Linked DNA regions of Homo sapiens: all the other regions are linked to region 1. Evidence: fine-mapped expression QTL. A gene starts in region 1. Each other region holds a variant in brackets. All regions are shown on one strand. Distances are from middle to middle.

Region 1 (6,282 bases):
AAACAGTGACCACATAGATACCCCTTCTTGGGCCTAGAGGCCTTCCACACCTAGAAAGACACCATCTATCTCCATTCCCCATCCCCCCTAAGAGGGGAGCCCCCTCCCTCCATGGGCCTATGACCCTTCTTCAGTGGCTAATGGGGTTTGGCCTGGCAGTTCCAGCCTTGCAGGTTACACTCAAAGAAAGACTCCCTGTAGCATAGAAGGGGATTAATAAACAAAACAACAACAACAAAATAAGCTGGGCGTGGTGGCCTGTAATCCCAGTACTTTGGGAGGCTGAGGCGAGAGGATCACTTGAGCCCAGGAGTTCAGGACCAGCCTGGGCAACATAGCGAGACCCTGTCTCTACAAAATAAAATAAAACTAGCTGGGCATGGTGGGGTGCCTGTAGTCCTAGCTACTTGGGAGGCTGAGATGGGAGGATCACTTGAGCCCAGGAGGTCAAAACTGCAGTGAGCTATGATTCACCACTGCACTCCAGCCTGGGCGACAGAGTGAGATTCTGTCTCAAAAAAATAAAAAAGTAAAATTAAAAGAAAGACTCACTGAGCCTCAGAACTATGAGGGTCAGTCCCACTCTCGTGACCTGGAGATGCAGAAAAGGAGGCTCACAAGAGAAAGTGACTTCCAGTCCCATTGCTGTGAAGTCAGACAGACCTCTGCTTCTCCCAGCTCTGCTGCCCATGGGCTGTGCAACCTTAGGGAAGTCAATCAGCATCTCTGTGCCTGAGTTTCCTCACTGGAAACTTAGGACTAATATCTCTCCCACGGGGATGCTGCGAGGATTAAGCAAGATAATTAAAGTTGAAACATCAGTTCCCATTCCCCAGCATGGCCCACCTCCCTTTCCAGCTTCACTTTCTCTTAGCACTTGTCACCTTCCCAGAATAGAGAGCCTTTTGCTCGTTTTTGTTGTAAATTTTCCTTCTCCTCATGCTGAAATAGAGGCCTCACGTGAGTAGGGAGATGACCATTCTGTTCACTGTTCTATCCCAAGAGCCTAGAACAGCGCTTGGCACACAGTTGGTACTCTGCAAATATTTGCTGAATATATGATCCACATAAAGCCACTTAGGAGTGCGCTTGGTATCAGTGACTACCAGGTAAAGGTAGCAATGACAACAGTGGTGATGATATTGATAAAGGTGAATTCTATTTGAGGCACATAAAAGCCAGGTTCCATGCAGATACAATTGATCCCATTTGACAGATGAGGAAACTGAGGGAGGTTCCAAGAGGCAGAGTGACCTGCCCCAGCCATGATGTCAGTGGTAGAACTACACCAGACTCTGCTCTTCTGGTTGGTCATGGGATGGACTTCCCCAAGGCTACAGAGGTGGCTCTTCCCTGGGCAGAAGGCCCCTCTGGGGATGACAAACACCCAGTGGAGTAGCCCTGAGTGGGACAAGGGCTTTGGAACGGGGTGGGCGTTGACAGGCTTGGCTCCTGTGGTGACGCCCAATGTCTCATGTACTTCCGGCAATGGAGCTAACACGGCCAAGGGAGCAAGATAAGATTCCCTGTGCAGAAGCCTCCAGAAGCAAAGTCCACTGTGATGTGAGTGTCACATCGCAGCCTGCCGGGCTCCCACAGGTGTAGGATGTTAGAATCCTGGAAGAAATTCCCTGCAGCCACATCCTAGGACATGTGGCATTCCTGACTTTCCTTTCTGGGAGTTCCTAGCCAAGCTACACCTCCACAGCCCATTTCCAGCAGTCCCCTGGCATTTTTTAAGAAAATAGCACCTTCCAGACACCTCGCCTGCCCCACCTCAGCATCTGCCCTCTCTGCCAGTCAATCCTTCTCTCCCAGGAGGGGTACTCAGCCACCCGCTCCTTGCCTGACAGGTGGCCTGGGGCAGGAAGGCAGCAGGTGCCCTCCAGCCATCGCCACCTCAAAATCAGTCACTTGTCACCATCAGGTGGGATGGTGCACTCACCCCTCGTGCCTTCACATTCAGATCCCTGACAGCACCCCCACGGCCTGACAGCACAACCTAAAAACAGTCTGTGTCCCTTCTAGGCCAGGCCTGGTCCCTCAGAGACAGCAAGGACATCCTTCAGTCAATCCACAAATGTACACGTGCAAACGTGCACGCACACACACCCTCCTTGGCCATCATCCTCACCCTCCAATCCCTCACCATCAGCCTCTCAGTCAGACACAGCACCCCTCACGGCCATTCCATCATTCCATTCTGCATGTGCAAATGCCGTCGCCCAGCACACACATCCCTCCGAGTCAGCTGGCAGGGCCACCCTGCCAGCGCCCTTCTCCTCCACCACTTTCCCCTTAGTGCATCCTCATGCCTCACGTCCTTAAGAGTGGGGGACCCCTTCATGGCTAGGACACACATATAGCCCCTCAGCATGACCACCTCTCCCCACATCCCTCACCTAAGAAATCGCATAAAACTTGAAGCCAAACATGAGAGCAAATGAATCCCACTCCCAAGCACCTGCGGGAATCCACTACCACCGTGGTATTCTGTTAGGCAGCAGGCACCACAGGCTGCCCACCAGGAAGTGGAAGCCAGAGAAGAAGAGTGGGGTGGGGCAGCAGGCAGCAGCAGATTACAACCTGGCATGGGCCCTGCCTGGGGCCTCCGGGTATCCATCACTGTCTCACCAAAGGGCGCTCAGAACTGGGTCTGCTCTCCACTTGGCTGGCTTCAATAGCTGTAAATAATAGCCACAGTCGCTAAACCCCAGTGGTCCAAGTCAGTGGGCCTGAGAGACCACCTAGTGTCTTGTTCCAGTCTACTTATCCTCACTCCTCCTCTCCTAACTAACAGAGAAACTGAGGCTCTGAGAAACCAGGTGACTTGCCCTAGGTCACACAGCCATTTACGGGTAGTGATGTACCCCAGCCTCTTGCCCAAGTGCTTTCCCATCCCCTCCCTTAGACCATGCAGAGAGCTCCAAATGCAGGAGAAAAGAGGGCTCTGCCTTTTGCACCCTTGACATAGAAGTTAAACAGGGACCCCAGCTCCCTCCCCCATCCTCATCCTTCCAAAGAAAAAGAAGCATTGCAACCTTGGGATGGCTCCTACCTCTCAAAGGCTCCCAGTGGAACACACAGCCCTGGGCTCTGGGACCTGGTGGTAGGGTGACTGCTGCCCTGCGGAGCCCACGAGCTCTAGAACTGTTAACAGTCTTGTCTTGCTTAATCTCCCTTTCCGTTCCCCAGCGAGCCAATCTCCTGTGCTCATCTACAGGACTTCCTGTGGAAGCGACCACTGGCGGCCCTTTCACAATTTTGCCTGGCACCCCCAGGCATCCCTGCCCTGATTGGTGTCTTGAAGTGGAGAATGCTGGAGCTGGCAGGGAGGCCCTCCTAAGCAGAGGCTCCAAAGAGTGAGATGGACTGCTCAAGATCACCCAGCCCTTAGTGGCACAGCCAGGACTGGGCCTCAGTCTCTGGTTGCCAAGGCAATGCCTTATCCCAGACAGCAGCAGGTTGATGGGCACAGCCGTGGCTGAAGCTAAGTGTATGGGATGCCCCGGGAGAACTGCCCATCCTGCCTCACTTCAGGCCCTCACTCTCAGACAGTGTCTTTGAGCCTCAGGGGAGGCTTTATATCTAAACCACCTTTTAGGGAACAATCTAGTCTGATACCAAAATACACTGTAGAGCTACAACCATCAGAACAGTGTGGAATTGGAGCATGACTATAGACAGATGAATCAGTGGAACAGAATAATGAAATAGACTCAAATATTTGTGGGACAGGAATAGACTCAAATATTTGTGGGGATTTAGTGTATCATAAAGGCACCACTTCAAATCATTGGAGAAGAGATGGTTTATTCAATAAACTATGTTGGGAGAATGGGCTAGGTATCTGCAAAAAACAAAGAGCTCTAACTCTAAAAGCATTCCAGATGGATAAAAGACATAAGCATTTTAAAAATCAAAATCACATAATTATATGTTGTTTGGGATTTACTTCAAAATTATTGAAGAGTGTGGAGAATAGGTAGGACATAGATGAAACAAGACTGGCTCTGGACCTGTTCTGATCCCTGCTGGAGTTAATGAGGGTACTGCAGGCTCATTATGTTCTTCTGCTTTTCTGTATGTTTGAACAAATGCCATAAGAAATCATGGCATAGTTCATTTGCCATGGTTGCAGAAGAAGGAAGGAAAGAAAAGGAAGGAAGGAGGGAAGGAAGGGAGGGAGGGAGGGAGGGAGGAAGGAAGGAAGAAGGAAGAGAGAGAAAGAGAAAGAGAAAGAAGAGAGAGAAAGAAAGAGAGAGAAAGAGAAGAAAGAAAAAAGAAAGAAAGAAGAAAGAAACTAAGAAAGAAAGAAAGAAAGAGAAAGAAAGAAAGAAAGAAAGAAAGAAAGAAAGAAAGAAAGAAAGAAAGAAAGAAAGAAAGAAAAAAAGAGGAAGGAAGGAAGGAAAGATAGATCTGTCATGGGATAGGCTGGGTGTGGTGGCTCATGCCTGTAATCCCAGCACTCTGAGAGGCTGAGGCAGGAGGATCGCCTGAGCCCAGGAATTCAAGACCAGTCTGGACAACATAGTGAGACCCCGTCTCCATTAAAAAATAATAATAATAAAGAAGGAGAAGAAGAAGGAGGAGGAGGAGGAAGAAGAAGAAGAAGAAGAGAAAGAAGAAAAAAAGGAAGAAAGAGATCATGGGATAATTTTTAAATAATCTTGGATTAGGCAAGGCCTTTCCAGATATATCACAAAGCATTAGAAGCCACAAAAGAAAATATTGAGCCATTCAACCATACGGAAACTTTTTAAAAATAAATAAAACTGAATGGCAAAAAAAGGTCACCACTGATAAGTCAAAAGGCAAACTCTGAAAAAATACTTACGTATCATAGAAAATAAGTTAATTTCCTCCCTCTGTAAAGAACTCCTGCAGATCAATGAAAGACCAATAATGCATTAGAGAAATTGGCACCATATGTGAATAAACAATTCATGGAAAAATAAATATCAATGGATTTAAACATATGAAAAATATTTATAAAAGTAAACATTTCTGTTTATAAAAATATAATAAGAGAAATAAAAGATAAAACTACGTACCATCACAAAGAAGATGAGGGTAAAAATAAAAAATAAAACTACACCGAGACATCATTTTCAGCTATTCAATTAGTAAGATCCAAAAAGTGATATATTATGTCATAAAGGATGTAGGAAACACATTCACACATTATTGGCAGGAATATAAACTGGTACAACTTTTATGAAAAGAAGTGTATAATATCTGTCAACATTTAAAATGCAAAAATCTTTCTACCCAGCAATTTCACTTTCAGTCATTGATTCCACAGATGATATACAATATGACAGTATGGAAGGATACTCATTACAGTATTGTCTGTGGTAGCAAAGGATTGGAAATGATCTAAATTTCCATCAGTAGGGAGCTGGTTAAATGAGCTCTGATACATCCGAACATTGGCATACTCTGCACCGTGAAGAAAATGAGAAAGATCCAGGTGGAGTGATATGGAATGACCTTCAAGATATTGTGTCATATGAAAAAAGTAAGGTGCAGAACAGTGAGGATAGTGTGCTTTTTATGAAGAAAAAAGTGTATGTGTGTGTATGAAATATATGCAATAGATAAGGGCCGTGATATAGTTAAGTTTTATGTCCTCACCCAAATCTCATCTTGAATTATACTCCCTATGTGTCAAAGGAAGGAAGTGATTGGATTATGGGGGCAGTTTCCCCCATGCTGTTCTCGTAACAGTGAGTGAATTCTCAAGAGAGCTGATGGTTTTATAAATGGCAGTTTTTCCTGTGCTTATATACTTTCCTCCCCTGCTGCCATGTGAAGAAGGTCCTTGCTTCCCCTCACCTTCCGCCATGATTGTAAGTCTCCTGAGGCCTCCCCAGCCATATGGAACTGTGAGTCAATTAAATCTCTTTCCTTTGTAAATTACCCAGTTTCCGGTATTTCTCTATAGCAGTGTGAAAATGGACTAATACAGGCCAGGTGAGGTGGCTCACACCTGTAATCCTAGCACTTTTGGAGGCTGAGACAGGCAGATTGCTTGAGCCCAGGAGTTAAAGACCAGCCTGGGCAACAAGGTGAAACCTTGTCTCTATAAAAAATAAACAAAATTAGCCAGGCGTGGTGGCGCATGTCTGTAGTACCAGCTACTCGGGAAGCTAAGGTGGGAGGATCGCCTGAGCCCTGGAGGTCAAGGCTGCAGTGAGCCGTGATTGTACCACTGCACTCCAGCCTGGGCGGCAGAATGAGGCCCTGTCTCAAAAAAAGAAAAAAATAGATAAGCACACA
Region 2 (6,282 bases), 22 kb before region 1:
TCCCTGGAGTGAGGCGGGCCTTGTTCTTCTGCGTGAGCAGTCGTGAGGGATGGCCTGGGTTGGGCTTCCTGCTCAGCCATGGTGGGAGGGGTTTGCGTGGGTTCCTGGGGTCCTGCTCCAGCCCCAGGCTGAGCCCCCCTGGGAGGAGAGCCCCTTGGAGGTGCCGATTTTCCAGGAGTGGGGCCTTCTGCTTCCACCTGAGCCTGTGGTGTGGCAGATGGGAGAGAAACAAGCAGAGAGTCTTGCTGGGGGAGTTCCGAATGCGCAGTTTCTAGGCCGTGAGCCTCAACCGACTGCTCTGACTGCTCTGAACTGAGGTCCTGCCCACCTCTGCCCTCTTGTTTTCCTTCCTCAGACCTGGGTTCCTCTTCCAGCTCCTGGTGGGGGAAGGCAGACAGCTCACCCAGCCCAAGGACCTGGCCATGAGCTTCTCTTAGCCCCTCAGGAAGGCCCTCCTGCACCGCTGGGCCCGCCTGGCCCTGCTCCAGCCTCTCTGTGGGCACCGGACCCACAAATTCCAGGCCCTGGAAGGGCTCAGCTGGCCCCAGGGTGAGGGCTCTAGCCCTCTGGGTCCCCAGTCTTGGCTCAGAGCCAGTGGCATGCAGGTCCTGCTGGAGGGCATCTCTCTGCCTGGGCGGCTTGGCTGGGCCCACTCCTGTGAGGGCAGTTGTGGGTGAGGGTCCGGGCTGGGTTTCCCGCTCAGTCATGGTGGGAGGGGTTTGTGTGGGTTCCTGGGGTCCTGCTCCAGCCCCAGGCTGAGCCCCGCTGGGAGGAGCCCAAGACCCAGGGCCCTTGTCATCTGGGTCTGAGGCCTGGATCTGTTTGCTGGACCCAGCTGGGGCCTGGGGAGGGGGAGAGTTCGCAGGGGGAGGGGGCCCATCCTCCAAAGGAATGAGCACTTTGAATGCAGGTGCCACCAGGCTTCCTGAGAGACCCCAGAGGAGGCGGCCCTCGGGTGTGGACCCTGGCTCCTGGTTGGGGTCCGGGTCGTGCGGTTCAACAGGCTGCTCTGCTCTAATGTCCTGCTCATGTGGGTCCACTCCTTTATTGTCCTTGGCGCTGAAAGTCACCCCAGGTGGGGTCCTTGGAGCCCCATCTGGATCTGAAGATGGCTCCTGACCAAATAGAAAAGCCTGTGGCTCCGAGATGGAGATCTGCCTGACCACACGGGGTGTCTGGGGGCCTGAGGTGGCTCTTGGGGTCGGGGGCGGGCTCCAGCAGAGCTGCAGGGCTCCGTGCGGAGGGCTGCCAAAGTTGCTCAGTAGCTGGTCCCAGTCATCGTTGTCCCCAAATAGCCCAGGCAGGGGGGCCTCCTCAGGGGAGGCAGCCTGAGGGTCTGGGGTCTTCTCACCCGCTCCAGGAAAACTGGAAATGAAGCAGGGAAGCAAAGATCGGGGAGGGGCAGGTAGGTGGTGTCACACCCATCCCACCTGCAGCCCTCACCATCCCTTGCTCTCCCCATGGCCAGGTCTCCTCCCAGTCCTTGCTCAGGCAATCTTTCTCACCTGGTATGTGCTCCCCATTCCTCCTCCTCATCCAATCCTGTCCATCCTCAAGACCCACATGAAGCCTCACCTCCTCCAGGAAGCCTTCCTTGATCATTCTGGCCCATCCCACTTCTCTGAGCTATAACAAGTAGAGTGAGTGCCTGCTAGGGATCTAGCACTGCACTAGGACATGTGTGTGTGTGTATGTGTGTGTGTATGTGTGTACACGTACATGCACACATGTGCATGTTTTACTTCTAGCCATGTGGCCTTGGGCACAGGTGTTTCCCTTTTTTGTGCCCCAGTTTCCTCATCTGAGAAATGGTTGTGATAGTTCCAGCTTGGCAGAGGGTGGGGTTTAAGGAAGGAGTCTATGTGTGCACTGTGTGCTAGCTAGATCCTTAGAGAACTCAGAGTTCCCCACTGGTTCCAGGAGGCCCTTAGAGTCCACCCCAGTCCAGGGATAGCAGCCACTTGCCTCAGTTTCTCCTCCACCTGCCAGGACACCCGGCCCCTGGCGGCGTCCAGGCGCCCCCTGGTCACCTGCAGCTGCCCCCGCACCTCCTCCAGCCGCCCAGCCAGGTCACGCTTGGCCTCCTGCAGCTGCTGGTTCTCTGAGGCAGCCTCCTGATGTGTGCTCCTGAGGTGGGAGAGCTGGGCCTCCAGCTGCAGGGTGGAGGGTGAGGCGGAGAGAAGCCCAGATGCCCTCCAGGGCGCAAAAAGCCTCCCAAGGCCATTGTGGGACACAGACCCCCACCCCCTGTCCAGGCTCCTGGAGACCCAGCTTAAATCAGAGTAGTGGTGGGCGGTTATCCCTCCTTGGCCTAACTAGCTCCATTAGCTCCTATCTAGGAGGGGCACTGGAAATCCTAGGGTGGGGAGGGCAGGGAGACTGTGTGAGAAACAAAAACCACCAGCGCCACAAAGGCCCCACACCCAAGCCAAATCCCACCCTCCTCTACTCAGCGCCCTACAGTGGCTGCTGGCCCCTGAGCC[T/C]GTCTGGTCTACAGGGGGCTCCTGATCCAACAGCAAATCTCATGACCCAGAGAGGGAGCATTGCTTGGCCAAGTGAAGGGAAAGGCAAAGCTCTTGCAATGGCCTCCGGGACACTGCACAGTCTCCTGCAGCCTCCTCACCTCCCCTCATGACCCTCACCTCCTTTCCTATGGCTGTTGCCTCAGTCTGTTCCAGTCCACAGCTCTGCTTACTGTTCTGTGAACTTCCACAGCTCATGCCCGCTCAGGGCCTTCGCACCTGCTGTTCCCTCTGCCTGGATGCCCTTCCCCCACATATCACACTTCTCCAGGTCTTCGCTCCAATGTCATCATCTCAGCCAGGCCTTCCTTGACTCCCTTCTCAACTTACTTTGACTACGATTTCAACTCCTACGACTCTTCTATCCCCCTTCCCTGTTTTACTTTATTCTCCTTAGCACTGATCACCATTTCCTATGTTATTATGTCACCTGTCTCCCTGACTAGATGGTAACTCTGTGGGCAGAGGTTTGTGTCTGTCATGATCCTCAGGACCTGGAACAGTGTCTGGCACATAGTTGGTGCTGGATAAGTAGCTGTGGGGTGAAGGAATAAATGATTGGAGGGGAGAAGCTTCACATCCACAGGGGACAGGACGAAATGGCCCCATGTGTAAAGCCCTATCTCTTCACTTGGCAGGAGGGGCCTGCCTCGATTTCCAAGGAGCAGCAGCAGAGGCACCTGGGAAATCAACCTGGTAACAGGGCCAGCCCAGGCCGTGGTGAGGACGGCTCGAGGAATCTTGTCCCGGGCTGAAGGGATGCTTCTTGTCCTGGTTACAGCAGAGCACAATTTTACCAAGGTCAGTGGTCTTCAAGTTGAGAAAGGAAGAGATAATGGGGCGCTGATCACAAGGTCAGGAGATTGAGACCACGGTGAAACCCCATCTCTACTAAAAATACAAAAAATTAGCTGGGCGCAGTGATGGGCGCCTGTAGTCCCAGCTACTCGGGAGGCTGAGGCAGGAGAATGGCGTGAACCATTCTCCTGAGGTGAACTGAGGCGGAGCTTGCAGTGAGCCAAGACTGCGCCACTGCACTCCAGCCTGGGTGACAGCATGATTCCGTGTCAAAAAAAAAAAAATGGGGCAGGGTCTCAGACCCAAACACTCAACCACAGTGCCACCTGGAAGTGACTACAGGCTATAAGACCTGCAGTGTCCGGGCAGCAGCAAGTAACCTGACCCTAAGCAGGAAGCTAGGTCAGTTTCAGAGATGGAACAACTGAGGCACAAAGCACCTACTACGTGCCAGGCACTGTCTCAGGCCCTCACATGTAGTATCTCTAATCATCACAGTACCTTCTAAGGCAGGAGTTCTGATTTCCATGTCTCTGATAGGAAACTGAGGTTCATAGATATTAAAGACCTGTTCGGAAGTAGGTTTCTGGGAAACCCTATTACTCACCTCCCTCTGGCCCTCAGCTAGTCGCTGCACCTCGCGCTCCTTGGCCTCTAGGACGTCCTGCATCTGGGAGGTGAGGGCCAGGCCCCGAGAGTCGCTCTGTGGAGTAGGTAGATTCAGCCCTCACCCTGCAGACTCTAAGAGCTAGCCAGGCAGGCCAGCCCTTCTCACACTCCACCTCCACCACCTGGGGTGCCTGGGCCAGGATGCCCCAGCAGGGAGGGTTCTCAGGACAACTCCTCCAGTTCCAGCCTAGATTGTGGCAACAAGGAGACTTGGCAGAGATGGGAAGGGGGCCCAGGCTCGACACTCCCCACCTCGTCTCTCTGGGGAACACCAGCTGCTCAGGGCAGGGAGAGGATTCACTACAGCAGCCTCCTGTTCCCCACCCTGGCCAGTCACTGGCCCCATTCCTTAGCCAGCAGAGGTGTCCCGGGCAGTGGGAAGGAGGCAGGCTGCCGGCGGGAGCCCACCTCAGCCTGCAGCTGCTGCTTCTCCTGGCGGATCTGCTGCTCCATCTCCTCATAGAGCTGCTGGACCTCGCGGTGGTGGTCAGAGTCACGCCTGGGAGGAGCAGGAGTTGGGGCCAGGCAGCCCATCAGCACCTCTGGGAGCCTGCTGCTGGCAGGGGCAGTCTGGGCTTGGGTTTGGAATCCATCCTATTGCTTTCCTCACTCTGCCAGCAGTCACTGACCTCTGTCACCCTGAGAACAGCCATCCCAGTAACAACCCCCTGACCCATACAACTTTGACATTGGTCCTGCTGATCCTACCACGCCGACCCTTGTAACCGTCACCAGTTCCCCTGGCCAGGGTCTCATTGTCCCCATCACCCCATCACTCAGTCCCCACTCCCTCTTTCACCGTCCTCCTGCCCTTATAACCCAACTCCAGGGTCACCACATGCATTACAGTCTACGGGAGCAGGCCCCCTGGAGTTGGGCGTCACAGTGGGTCCTGTACCAAGACACACCCTGCCCTTCCCACTCCTGCCATTACCAACTCTGTCCTCCCCACCCGGTCCCCTGAGCCACCTCTTCCTCCAGCGCAGCTCTGCCCTATCCAGCTCACAGGCCCAGCTGCAGGAGGAGCTGGGGAAATTCAACCAGATTCCACTGGAATGTGAAGAGCACCTACTTCGTATCAGACACCCGGCCAGGCCCCCCACTCACTTCCTCAGGGTCAGCTCCAGGGCCTCCTTGTCCGCCTGGGCCTCCTGCAGGCGGCTGGTCATCTTGGCCAGAAAGCCTGCCAGGTTGCCTGCCAGCTGGGGCTCCTCCTGCCGCAGCTGCCCCCACAGTTGCCAGATTTCCATCTGCCTGGGGAGGGGAAGACAGCCAGAGATGGGAGGGTCAGACACAAGGTGGGATGGAGAAGCAAGGGGAGCCCCACTCCTCAGTTTTCACTGCAGCGCTCCAAGAGACTTTGGCACCTGGGCCAAATCTATTGACACCCTACAAGATGCAACTAAAACGCCACCTCCTCCAGGAACCATTCCCAGATGTGCCCTCTCCCTTCTCGAACCCCCGCCACACTGTGTCTCTCTATGATTCCGTAATAGTGGGATGGGGGGATTTGGGAGCCTGATGGCCCAGAGCTTCCATCTGCCCTCTCTCTTCTCTCACTCTGAGGCTGTGTGACCTCCAGCAAGTCCCAAGCCCTCTCTGGGCTCATTTGTAAAATGGGGTGGGGGCTGATACCTGCCAAGCAAGGTCACTGGGGAATGAGAAACACCTGATGAAAGCACCAGCTCAGGGCCTGCCACACGGTTGGTGCCCAATAAAGGCTGCTTTCACATGGATTTAATTAAGTCATGAGGATGGATGCCAGAGGGCTGAGCCTAGGCCAAGATGCCAAATGAATACAAAGCTCCCCACCCCCTTGCCCCACCAGTCTACACCCTAAGTCCTACCCTGCCTGCCTCACAACACCTGGCCCCACCCTCCGGGAGCCAAGCGTGAGGAATCTTGTCCTCACAGAACCCCATGGGTGGGGCAAGCAAACCTGGGCCAGTGGGTGAGGGCAATTCCCTCACTGGTTCTAACAGACCCGGGGGTCCTAGGAGGGGACGTTAGCAGGCAGGGCTCCCTTTCTATCTCTCTCTTTTTTTTTTTTTTTTTTTGAGACAGAGTCTTGCTCTGTCACCCAGGCTGGAGTGCAGTGGCGCGATCTCAGCTCACTGCAACATCCGCCTCCCAGGTTCAAGCAATTCTCCTGCCTCAGCCTCCTGAGTAGCTGGGATTACAGGCATGTGCCACCACGCCCGGCTAATTTTTGTATTTTTAGTAGAGATGGGGTTTCATCATGTTGGCCAGGCTGGTCTGGAACCCCCGACCTCAGGTGATCCACCCGCCTCAG
Region 3 (6,282 bases), 51 kb before region 1:
GCAGCTCACGGAAAGAGCCTGGCTCTAAGGGTAGAGCCTGCCCAGCATGCTGCCTGCCAGGACAGGTGCCAGGTCAGGGCGTGGGCAGCCAAGAGCCCGCAGGTGAGTGACTGCACCTGTCTGGAAAGGAGACAGGCAGGAGCAACTGCCAAAGGCTCATCCCAGCCAAGTGGACCCTTGGCTGCCTGGTTCTCCAGGGCAGAGGGAGAAGTCAGGTCCTGGGAAGCCACACTCACTTTCCCATGACAACACTCCCTGCTGCCTTGAGCTTGCAGTCTCAAGGCTGCAAGCTCTCCTCCTACCCACTGAGCACACACCCTGCCTCCAGTCACTCAGGAGCTCCTCTGCTCTTACCTGCCCCTCCTCTGGGCTGACTCCAGACCCCGCCTTTGCACTCTTCCCCCATCAAAATTGCTTCCCTCTCAATCCCATTAATCAGCCACCCCTTACAGTCCATAGCACCTGGTAACTCTCAAACACCCCTCATCCTGTTTATTTTTATTTATGTTTATTTTATTTTATTTTATTTTATTTATTTTTTGAGACAGAGTCTCGCTCTGTCACTCAGGCTGGAGTGCAGTGGCACAATCTCGGCTTACTGCAACCTCCGCCTCCTGGGTTCAAGCAATTCTCCTGCCTCAGCCTATCAAGTAGAGTAGCTGGGGCTACAGGCATGCGCCACCACCCCCAGCTAATTTTTGTATTTTTAGTAGAGACGGGCTTTCACCATTTTGGCCAGGCTGGTCTCGAACTCCTGACCTCAGGTGATTCGCCTGCCTCGGCCTCCCAAAGTGCTGGGATTACAGGCATGAGCCACCACACCCAGTCCATCCTATTTATTTTTTTCATTTGCATAGTACCCCCAACTTACAGAACACAGTGGGCAGGATCAGAACAGTTATCCCCATTTTACAGAGCTTGCCTGAAGCCACACGCCTAGATGGTGGCAGGGTTCCTTCTCCCATAACATGCTGCCTTTCATTCTATAGTAATGAATCAGTCTAGCCTGCCTGACTTGCAGTTAGCGGGTGGGGTGGGATGAAGATGGAGACTGATGAGTTAAAGGGCTGGATGCTGTGAGGTTTCATCGAAAAGGAGCCCTCAGAGGCTGAGCTAAGCTGGTGCCACCCATACTGGGCAGGTTATAGCCCCAGAGCCAGCCCTCTCTTTAAACTCTCTGGAGAGCCTGAGTGAGGGAGCTGGCTCCAGGGACTGAGAGCCTGGCATGCATGCCCAGGCAGGAAGCTGATGTCTAGGGATCCTCTCCTCCCTGGCCTCCCTCACCTGCCCACCTGGACCCAGGAGGAAGGGTATGGGTACTTTGGCCCCACTGTCAGAGGAGGAGCTGGTTGCTCAGCAGCCTGTGTTCTACCCTTAGGCAGGAGACACTAGGCTGCTGCGAGTAATTTTCCCACAAGAGGATCTGCTTTCCAATTGCTTCCTTTCCCAAGGCTTTTCAGAACCCAGGGCAGGGGAGGACTAGTTAGAGCAAGGCCTGCCTTTCCCCTCACCCTGTATTTGGAAGAGCCAGTCCAACAGTGTCCCTCCAGTATAGTCCCACAGGCCAGAATCATCTTCCCAAGAGTGGCCCTGGGAGCGGGACTTTCACCCTCCAAATGTCTCCCTACCTCTAACAAAGACATGCGTTCTACATTCCACACTGAAGCGGGGGTGACAACAAACAGCAGATGAGTATGGTAGGTCAACTGCTGTAACACATAATTCCCTAACCTCAAGCCTTCATACCAATAAAGGTCTGTTTTTCATCTGTGGGATGGCAGGGTTGGGTGGGGAGATGATCCACGCAGTCATTCAGGGACCCAGGTTCTTGCTAGCTTTGCGGCTCCTTCTATCCTACTGCCTGGAATCCTCTGGATGCTCTGCCCCCAGCCAGCAGAAGAGGAGAAAGAGGTGGGGATGACTGTCTGTGGCCAGCAGACCCTGGCTGGGGTCTCCTGCTAACCATGTCCTTGACATTTCCCTGGGGGTGAGTGAGGGTTCCATGAGCAGCAGCTCAGCTGTGATCAGGTGGTTTCTGATAGGGACCTTCTGCTGTGTCTGTGACAGGGATCTTGGGCTGATAGAGCTGTGGTTTCTGATAGGCACCTTCTGCTAAATGCAAGTGAGGTGAGGCCTACCTGATCTTACATCATCCATAGCCCCAACTAAGAATTACTAGAACAGAGTTTTCCCCAGCGTTATCCCAGCCTCGTGTCCTCATAATCCCTGGATGAAGGCAGTGGACATTTTTTCAAGAGGTAGATTCTGGGAGCCACTCCAGACAAACTCAATTGGCATTTCTGGGGTGGAGCCCTGGAATCTTCTTAAGCAAGCACCCGTAGTGATTCTATGCTCACTGCCGTGTGAGAACCATAAGACTAGACTTTATCAGGGACTTGTGTTTGTCAGCTTTGTTCTGTCTGGACCCGGCAGAGAACCTAGAATGGCCAAGCCCTCAGAAAGTCTCAAGCCTGAATCTGAATCCTCAAAACCTAACTTTTTATTATAGAAAACGTCAAACACATGCAAATGTGGAGAAAAGGTATAATCAACATGCAAGTACCCTTCACCCAGCTTCAGCCATTACCACATCATAGCCAGTCTTGTTTCATGCACTCCACCCTTCATTCAGTCATTTATTATTATTTTTTATTTTAGTGGGTTTTTTTTTTTTATTTTTGAGGTCTCACTATGTTGCTCAGGCTGGCCTTGAACTCCTAGTGTCAATCAATCCTCCCACCTCAGGCTCCCAATATCCAATTTGAAGCAAATCCCAGCCATCATATTTTATCCCCAAATGCTTTAGGATGTCTTTCTAAAACATAAGGACTCTCTCTTTATCAAACATAACCACAATACCATAACCACACCTAAAAAATTAACAATTCCTTAATACTAAATATCTAGTAAATGTTTACATCTCCCCAATTATCTTATAGTTTTAAAATTGGTTTGTTTGAGTCAGAAATCCAGGCAAGAGCCATAGGCTGTGATTGGTGGGTTGGTCTCTTAATTCTCTTTTCATCTATTCATTCCCCCCAAGCACCTGAATGGCTTGCTAACACAGATTCCTGTACCCCACCAAGAGAATCTAATATTCAGCCAGATGTGGTGGCTCACACCTGTAATCCCAGCACTTTGGGAGGCTGAGGCAGGAGGATTACTTTTGCCCAGGAGTTCAAGACCAGGTTGGCCAATATAATGAGACCCCATCTCTGCAAAAAGAAAAAAAAAAGCCAGGTGTGGTGGTGCGTGCCTGTGGTCCCAGCTATTTAGGAGGCTGAGGTGGGAAAACTGCTTGAGCCCAGGAGGTTGAGGCTGAAGTGAGCTGTGATCACGCCACTGCATTTCAGCCTGGGTGACAGAGCGAGACCTCTTTTCCAAAAAAAGATTCAGGAGAGCTAGATAGAGTCTGAGAGGCCCAGCATATTCCCAGGAGATGGTGCTGCTGCTGTCTCTGGTAGTGCTTCTACAGAGTTTCCCAAAGACTGGATTTTGCTGGCTGCATCTCCTGTGGTGTCATTTAATGTGTTCCTCTGTCCCT[T/C]GTATTTCCTGTAACTAACTAGACAGCTCTGGAGCCTCAATCAGAATCAGGTTCAATTTTTTGGTAAGACAACTTCATGGGTGGTATTCTATTCTTTCTTTAGGAGATGCATAATGTCTATTTGACTCTCTTTTTTGTCAAATGAGTTTTCGTCCTGAATCTCACTCCAAATTTGAGTCAGCAATCCAATGAGACCCAACCTCACCCAGCCTACACAGGTGGGCCCAGGGGGTAGGGTTTGTGGAGGAAATAAGTGACCATAGCCACATGCCCACACAGAACACAATCATCTTCAAAGAGCTTTCCTACTGCATAACTCTTCTGATGCTCATTAATCCTGTAAGGGGGGCATAGCTGGCATTACTATCTCAGCTCTCCAGAACTAGAAAGAGATGAATGACTTCACCAAGGCCACACACCTGGCAAGCAGCAGAGCCAGGGTGGTAGCCAATGTCTAGCACTGTCCCCCCTCCCACAGCCCTGCCTCCCTCCAGGTGACTCCCCTGCTGTTCTCCCTCTTCTAGGACCCAGATCAACTTCACTGTGGCCATTGATTTCACTGCCTCCAATGGTGAGTTGGGGGATGGGTAGAGGAGCAGGGTGGGAGGAGAGAGCTTTTAAGGGCTGTGGCATCTGGCCCTGGCTGGGACCATGACCCTCATACTCTCTGGCCTCTTCCTCACCAAAGAGGATGTACCTAGGTCTGGAGGACCAAAGATACAACCAAGATGGCAGTAGTATCCCCAGGTTGGACCATTGACATAAATCTGGGCTCTGAGCCACAGCCTTGTCCTTGAGGAACACCCAGTCTCCCTGGGGGAATGGGATTGTGTGTACTCTGGGCCTATGGAGGGCCCTGGAGATGTTTCCCCCCGGGATCAAATCCCAGCTCCTCTGTGCAGTCCAACCCACAGGCTGGAGTGGAGAATCAGAGCCAAGGCTGAGCTCTGTGGTGTTCAGGGAGGCAGGATCCAGCCCAGGGACCCCAGTCCTTACCTGGCTGGGGCTGCCCTGGCTTCCTTACCTCCTCCCAATTTCTCCAGTGTCAGCCTGTGGCTGAGTCACTAGGAGCAATAACAGTGCCCAACTTTACATGATTAGAAACATCACAACCTCCCTTGGGCTCTGGGCTCTATTAGGGGTGCTCAGTGCTAATTTTTGCACCAATCAAAAATGCCCAGGTCTTGCCCTCTACAGGTGTCAGGAGCTCCTCTTATAGCTGTAAGTCCTAGCATCATAGAGCACTGGGCTATCAGAGCTGGAAGGGGCCTTAGTAATAATAACACTGAGGATAGTTATCATAATATCGATAGCATCTGTGTAATATTCACATCAATCCTATGAAGTAGGAACTATTATTGCTCTGATTTTACAGGTGAAGAGACTAAGGCTAAGGTTAAGGAACTTACCCAAGATCACATAACTAGCAGGAGGTAGACAGGATTGGTACCTTGGCAATCTGTGCTGTACTACCTCCCATCAATGAACAAATAAGTTAAATACAGACTATATTGGCAGCGAAGAGGGCTCTGGGGGGGGAAATCAAGCCAGGAAGAAGGATAGGAAGGATTGGGGGAGGCTGTAATTTTTAATAGGCTGCTTGGAAAAGATCACACTGAGGAGGTGACACTTGAGCAGAGACCTGAAGAGGCCAGGGAGCGGGCCAGGGAGTGGACATCTGGGGAAGAGTGTCCCAGGTAGAGGGAACAGCCATCACCAAGGTCCTGAGGTGGGAATGGCGAGGGGCTGGTGAGGCTGGGACTGGCGAGTGACAGGGAGGAGGGTAGGAGATGACCTGGAGGCCAGATCATGAGTGCTTGCGGGCTCTTGTGAGGACTTTGGGTTTCATTTTGGGGGAGGTGGAGGCATTGAGCGTTTTGGGCAGAGGAGAGGCATGATCTCTCTGAGGCGGATAGGCTCAGTCACTGCTGTGCTGGATATGGGCTGGAGGCACAGGGGCAGAAGGAAGTGGGAGATCAGTTAGGAGACTGCTGCATCCTATAAGCAAGAGGGTGGTGGTATGGGGAGGAGGAGAGGCGGAGGAGGGATTCTAGATCTGTTTTGCTGAAGGATTTAACATGGGGTATGAGAGAAAGAGAGGAGTCAAGAATTAATAAAAGTTAGGGGTGCCCTTGGACACCCCCTTCTTCATTCTGAACCCGGGGTGACTTGGAGGGTCCAGATGGTCAAAGGCTCCCATGTCCTGTGTTACAGGGAACCCCTCACAGTCCACATCCCTGCACTACATGAGCCCCTACCAGCTGAACGCCTACGCGCTGGCGCTGACTGCCGTCGGAGAGATCATCCAGCACTACGACAGTGACAAGATGTTCCCTGCCCTGGGCTTCGGGGCCAAGCTGCCCCCGGATGGCAGAGTGTCCCACGAGTTCCCACTGGTAGGTGGTCCCGCTGGTGGGAGAGAGGACTGATCAGGCTGGGGGTGAGGTGACAAGCTGGGGGTGGGGGGACGTTTCCCTTCCTCTGAGCCCGGGGACTTAAGGCTCAGCCTCAGTGGAGGTAGACTGCCTGCTGTGTGTAGGGGGGCTCCAGAAATCCACTCCCTTCCCTGATCACAGATGCTGCCCCTCCATGTCTGAAGCTGCCTGCCCACAGCTGGCCCTGGCTTCCTTGTTCCTGACAAGACGCAGGTGCAGGTGGAGGCGAGCTGTGGCTGACCCATCCCTCAGGGCCCCAGAAAAGTGAACAAGGTGGTGTGGGTTGGGTATCCCTGAGTCAGT

What was found. PIP is the estimated chance that this variant, and not a neighbour inherited with it, causes the effect.
Region 2: its variant is fine-mapped to the expression of RAB44 in whole blood (INTERVAL, PIP 0.95).
Region 3: its variant is fine-mapped to the expression of RAB44 in whole blood (INTERVAL, PIP above 0.99).

The regions. Positions count from the first base shown.
Region 1 is chr6:36,694,692-36,700,973 of GRCh38, reverse strand. RAB44 (RAB44, member RAS oncogene family) reads right to left here and starts at 3,148. Exons shown (of 14, transcript NM_001257357.2): 1 at 3,059-3,148.
Region 2 is chr6:36,716,234-36,722,515 of GRCh38, reverse strand. It overlaps RAB44 (RAB44, member RAS oncogene family), which reads right to left. Exons shown (of 14, transcript NM_001257357.2): 5 at 5,097-5,243; 6 at 4,398-4,488; 7 at 3,928-4,023; 8 at 1,966-2,153; 9 at 1-1,365. Among named protein-coding and RNA genes, the nearest start is that of RAB44, 22 kb to the right of the region's middle. RefSeq lists enhancers at 2,230-2,409, 5,063-5,564. The variant T/C (reference allele first, on the strand shown) is at 2,484.
Region 3 is chr6:36,746,054-36,752,335 of GRCh38, reverse strand. It overlaps CPNE5 (copine 5), which reads left to right. Exons shown (of 21, transcript NM_020939.2): 15 at 4,069-4,115; 16 at 5,759-5,940. Among named protein-coding and RNA genes, the nearest start is that of RAB44, 51 kb to the right of the region's middle. The variant T/C (reference allele first, on the strand shown) is at 3,545.